2 separate regions of the Homo sapiens genome follow, and region 1 is linked to region 2. The links come from fine-mapping of genetic effects on gene expression. A gene starts in region 2. The other region holds a variant in brackets. All regions are shown on one strand. Distances are between the middles of the regions.

Region 1 (2,916 bases), 85 kb after region 2:
AGCAATTAACTGTAAAATTTGTTACATTGCACTGATTGGCCAAAACACAATGTAACTAATAAACATGGTGGCTGTTAAGAAAACCCACAGAACTCATTCCAAAAAAGATTTTCATTTCCCCCTTTTGTTTTTCTGGCAGAAGAAAAGCAAAGCTCCCCCAAGAATTTGCTCATACAAGTGAAAATAAAATAAAGCAGCTTAAAATGGATACAATGCACCTTGAAATTTATTTCCAAGACCAAGAACCTGAAGTGAAGCATTTTAAGAAATGAAAGCAATGTGAATCCAAATCAAGTGGGAAAAACAAATTCAGCTACTTTGTAAAAGCTGTTCTTCGCAGCGTAGCAGTAATTTTGATTAAATAAAATCATATCAACTTACACTAATTTTCTATTCTTTTCCAAAACTTCCCTTACTCTCAAAAGAAAAAGTGCATCTAAACCCCAGCAATTCCCGGCTCCATCAACTTTTCTTATCTCTTTTGAGCCATTTCTCAATTTTCCAAGTAGATTCAACTTGTTACTGTAAGGAAAAAGGGACTTCTAAAGTAAACCATTCTTTCATTCACCTGAAAAAAGTATCCAAATTATAAAAATCTGAAATAATTTATCAAATTTAGAATTTAAATAAAAACAAAAGTTTGCTTGCAAAGGCCTTAAAGAAAAGGAAAAGATAGCATGCATTCAAAAACTAGAGATGAAGACAAATATACTTATCTACACAGGCACTGGCAGACAAAATTTAATTGTTACCTTTACTCATTGTAAGACATACCCACCCTACATTTTTTTCATTCACTAATCACTGAGGTACCAATATTCAAGAATGGAAAATTTAATATTGAAAAAATAAAACCTAAAACTGAAGCGTCTCCCTCACCCACTTCAGAAAACTAGGGCAGGTTTTGTGTGAAATGTTAGTATACTTAAAGACTTTTACAATCCACATTGGCTTTTTTAAGGAACAAAAATTATGTTCCACTTACTGGTTCTGTGATAAAATGATCACTGTGTAAATAACATTGTCAGCAGACTTTGCAAATGAACACATAAATCTTGGCTATCAACTGGCACATCTTGTTGGTACCAAAAGAACTCCTGAAGTTTAAAACAATCTTTTAATTCAGAACAAATGTGCCATGCCAAAGTGCAACAAATATTGTGCGACACTCAATGAGACACTGACAGGTAAGAGCTGCATGGAAATTACTAAATCCACCTGCAAAGCAATTCTGTACAAATTGCATTGCATGCAAAGGTCGATTCTGTG[C/T]GGATGATAGTTGTTCCTTGATGTCAGTTTCTCAACGCAGCCACAGTTTAAGTCGCAGTGCATCAACTCCATTTAAATAGTATCTGAACAGCCTCTTATCTCGAACAAAACCAAGATTTTCATAAAGTTTCAAAGCGGACTTATTTGTTATTTCGGTTTCCAAAACAACCTTCAAAGAAATGAGAAAAAAACTAAGTTATAATTACACAATTTAAAAAATAATTTACCAACTAAACAATTTTTTAAAAAATCATACATTATTTTAAAAATTGATAGTGAAAACAATAAATAATATACAGAAAGAACTCAAAAACAGTCATCAAGATTGTAATATTATATTTGGGTCAAGGGCTTGGAGGACCACTGCAGATTTATCTTCTGTTCTACTGATTTGTGTAGTTTGAAATGTTTAGCAATGAGAGTATGTTTTATACTAAAACAAAGATTAATTATTTCCCTGTGGGGAAAGGTAAAATGACTACAGATGAAAATAAAATCAACAATCAAAAGTGCTGGTTTATTTCCTTAAAATAATAAGCTATATTATTATAAGCAGCTATTCAGATTGACTTCCAACTTCTGTATTTTCATTAATATGTCATTTATTCTGGCAATAACTACCATATTTGTCTGGAGTCTCGACCAGAGTCTGCAAACTATAGACTTTGGGCCAAATGTGCCTGCTGTTTTGTAAATAAAGTTTTAGTCAAACAGCCATGTTTATTTGTTTACATGATGTCTGTGGTGGCTTTCTCAATACAAGGGCAGAGCTGAGCAGTTGCCACAAAGACCTATGGTCCACAAAGCCTAAAATAATTACTAGTGGGCCTTTTACCAAGAAAGTTTGCTGAATCCAGACAAGAGGTATTCAAAATGTTACAGTGTATCATAATCACCTGAAGGGTCTGTTAAAATAGATTGCTGAGCCCCACCCTCAGAGTTTATGAGTACGTTTGCAGTAGGACACAAGAATCTGCATTTTTAATATTTTTAAATTGCTAGATGATGATGTTGCTGCGGTCAAGGGACCACATTTTGAGAACCACTGGTCTATATAGCAAAGCTTAACAGAGGAACACATAGTATTAACTTTCATTTAAGTCTTTTGAAATATTACTGAGCCAGTGGCCCTGACAATGAATAACTGGTATTTTTGAAAACTGCGATTTTATTTTTACCTCCCTCTAACACCCTCTACCCCATCTTCCCAACTTTTACACACGTAGCTCTATTTGCCTTTTCAATTGTTTCTCAACTTATTTCATTGAGAACTATCAACACAGTGAGCCACAGTTACTATTGGGTGTCATAACCCTCAAGTGTTTGGAGTGGGTGGGGGGGAAATGGCAAAGTATAATTAAACAAAGGCCCAAGTGAAGCATAAGTCTCTTCCTGTTCTTTCTCAAGCTATCAAAAAGTCTGACAAGAATGCAAACAACTGATGCAAATAATAAAGACAGTACCTCAACTTATATCCAAAATTGAACTCATAATCTGCTCTTCCTCCTCAATTCCATATCTCAGTAAACAGGATCACCCCCCACCACACCAATGCCTCAAACCTGAAACCCAGGAGTCATCTTTGAACCTCATTCCTCTCCAACCACCTATATGCATCCAAGCACTGATTATTGTCAATTCTCCCTC
Region 2 (2,928 bases):
GTATTGTTATTAACCCCATTTCACAGATCAGGAAAGTCACAAAGCTTGATAGTCACTAGTAATGAAAAGAGAAAGAAGCACAGAAATGCATCTTTATTTCTTTAATTATTCCTTCAACAACTAACCAATTTCCTCAACAAAGGCTCATGTTCTCCACAAATATTGTCTGAAAATTAAATAATAATAAAACAAAACATAAGAGCTGAATCCCTCTTACTGGTCCAGATCCATGAAGTCCACAGTTTTCAGTACAATGTCTAGTTCATTTGTTAGTTCGCAATACATTCCCCTGCCCTTAGAAATACTTAAACTGATTGTACTAAAAAATAAATCTTACTAGACCTTACTCAAGTATTATTATCCTTGTAATTAAGCTAGTCTGTTTACCAGAGGCTGTTGTGTTTGCAGATACTGTTAATATATTAGTCTTTACTTATAAACCTCTCTGCTGCAGAGAAAATGATGTGGAAAATGCAAAGAGAGTAAGGAAAAAACTAAATTCAGGCATCTTTTTAGATAAACGTGATTGTCTACCAAGACTTTCCAAACATCACCTTAGTCCCTTAGGAAATGGATTCTGCAAAGATGAAAAATAAATTTTCTTTTAATTTCTTTATGGAGATGTGATGAAAACACAAGTAATCTGTGCTCATGAACAATTAGAGCTTGAAAGTTAGTCCCACTTCTAAGTATAAAGAATAAAATAAAAATCACCCATAATCCCACCATTCAAAAATCACTACTCAATATTTCGGCACATTTCCTTCCAGTCTTTTTTTCTACTTTAAAAATCATAATAGACCAGGCACTGTGGCTCATGCGTGTAATCCCAGCCCTTTGGGAGGCCAAGACAGGTGGATCTCTTGAGGTCAGGAGTTCGAGACCAGCCTGGCCAACATGGTGAAACCCCTTCTGTACTAAAAAATACAAAAATTAGACAGGTGTGGTGGTAGTAGGTGCCTGTAATCCCAGCTACTTGGGTGGCTGACTCAGGAGAATCACTTGAACTGGTGAGGCGGAGGTTGTGGTGAGCCAAGATCGCTGGGCTTGGGTGACTCCAGCTTGGGTGACAGAGTGAGACTCTGTCTCAAAAATAAATAAATTAATTTAATTTAGTTTAAAAACATAGTAAATAGGTTATCTTCAAAAACTCAAGGTTTACTTAGACCATTTATTCAAGAATTTTTTCCCCTTATCCCCAGGAAAAAAATTTCTATTATCCTCCTGTCCTGCAATGTATTCACCCCCTTCAAAGGCAACTCAAGTCATCGACAGAAAAATCAAATGACGCTTTAGCCGCTCCGCTGCTTTCTTTCCTATTTGGGGGATAAATTCTTTAATTAAATTAAAGATTAACAAAGCCTTGGCAATCAGCATGCATCCTCTTAATTGCAAAGATGGCTTAGCTATTCTCAGCAGTTAGTTTTTTTACAAAGGTACTTGCAATGAAAGGGTCAAGTTTAAGACTTCTCTAAACCTCTGCTCTACATCTCTCTCTGTTAATAACCTTCCTGGTGTTCGATATTTGTTTAATGATCAACAGTGGCTTCTATTCCTATCACTGAGTATTTCAGAAAGTAGCATAACCAAGTCAATGTTTAACTGGATTCTTTGGGTCTGAAACGGCAAAGTTGAAGGGAAGTCTCCATGGAAACCAGCCTCCCAGGAAGTGGCCAAAAGGGTTAGTGTGCAGTGAAACAGAGCTAGAAGGATGCCATGAAGGAAATGACTGCTTTGTAAAGCGAGGGTAAACTTCTGAAATGCTTTGATTAAAATAAGCTATATTAAAGACCCCAAAACCACTTCCCTCGCAGCTTTCCTCTGAATGTCTTTCACATGAAATGGGCCTGAGTCACTCTAAGACTCACCTTAGGGTGATCAAAGTAGCACCTTTGCAAAACAAAGAGGTAGAGACTCCCTCGGCTGGCCGTGTGGACTTTGCATTCAATCAGAATTTGGAAGAAAAGACTTCATATTCACTGGCAAGACTGCAGGACCAGAATAAAGCCTTGGAAGGGCAGCTGCCACCTTTACAAGAAAACTGGTATGGAAGATATTCTACAGGTAAACATAAAACCCAGCATGAGATGTGTGTATCTGGACCAAGGAGCATTATTAATAGGTTTATCTGACTGTCTCCATGATCTCAGAAAGTTTCTAAATTCCTGAAATGTAAAGGAATTTAGGCTATCTTTGAAAACTCAAATCTTTCAATGAGGATTGAACATCAGTTGAAAGTATTCTGGGTTCATTAGAATGGGAGTATAAACTGTACAAAGGACTTTTCACTATTCCATATGAGAAGGATAAATCATTTTGTTTCAGCTCAGTTTGTAATGCTTTCAATGTTTATACCTAGTTTTGCCAGACCATTAAAATTATATAGATACTAGTGATAAATGATAGCAATCGCGTTTCAGTTAGATTCTAAATTTAAATCATTCTCTCCAGTATAGTTTAATGCACCAGACTTTGTGGTTTTGAAAGCAACACTTTAAGAGTGAGTTAATTCTAACATGAATTTTGAAACCACCCTAAACAGTATTGATTTATTGCAGTACAGAGGAGTGGATGAGTCACCCTTTTCCCAACCCCACATTCTTCATGGTCATCTGCAGAACTAACAGAATTCTTTCCCATTATGATTGGAAGCTCTGAGCCTGAAGTGGCCATAAATCCTGGGATATTTTATAAGCCATGTAAAATGTTTTATGATGACCACAATGATAATTAAACAGACATTCTCACTTAGAAAAATATATGTTTATTATATACATATATATATGTATATTGTTTTCCCTTTTCTTCACCTTCTGGATCAATAACACAAATAAGTTTCCCTTATTGGATGCCTTGTTCAGAAAGCCTCACATTCTCTTTTGGTACCTAGCAAATCTTGCCTGGAATGATTTTTCATGGCTATTGTCT

Which allele goes with the higher level. Alleles are on the strand shown, and positions count from the first base shown. SD is a standard deviation of normalised expression in the study named.
For the expression in prefrontal cortex of the gene that starts at base 1,700 in region 2, T is the high allele of the variant in region 1 and C is the other (moderate effect, 0.56 SD a copy in CommonMind).

What was found.
Region 1: its variant is fine-mapped to the expression of CCDC198 in prefrontal cortex (CommonMind, PIP 0.95).

The regions. Positions count from the first base shown.
Region 1 is chr14:57,407,901-57,410,816 of GRCh38, reverse strand. NAA30 (N-alpha-acetyltransferase 30, NatC catalytic subunit) reads right to left here. Exons shown (of 5, transcript NM_001011713.3): 5 at 1-1,438. The coding sequence ends at 1,301. Among named protein-coding and RNA genes, the nearest start is that of NAA30, 19 kb to the right of the region's middle. The variant C/T (reference allele first, on the strand shown) is at 1,270.
Region 2 is chr14:57,492,629-57,495,556 of GRCh38, reverse strand. It overlaps CCDC198 (coiled-coil domain containing 198), which reads left to right and starts at 1,700. Exons shown (of 6, transcript NM_018168.4): 1 at 1,700-2,064. The coding sequence starts at 1,842. The region is part of intron 1 of LOC105370519 (a long non-coding RNA gene); the gene reads right to left.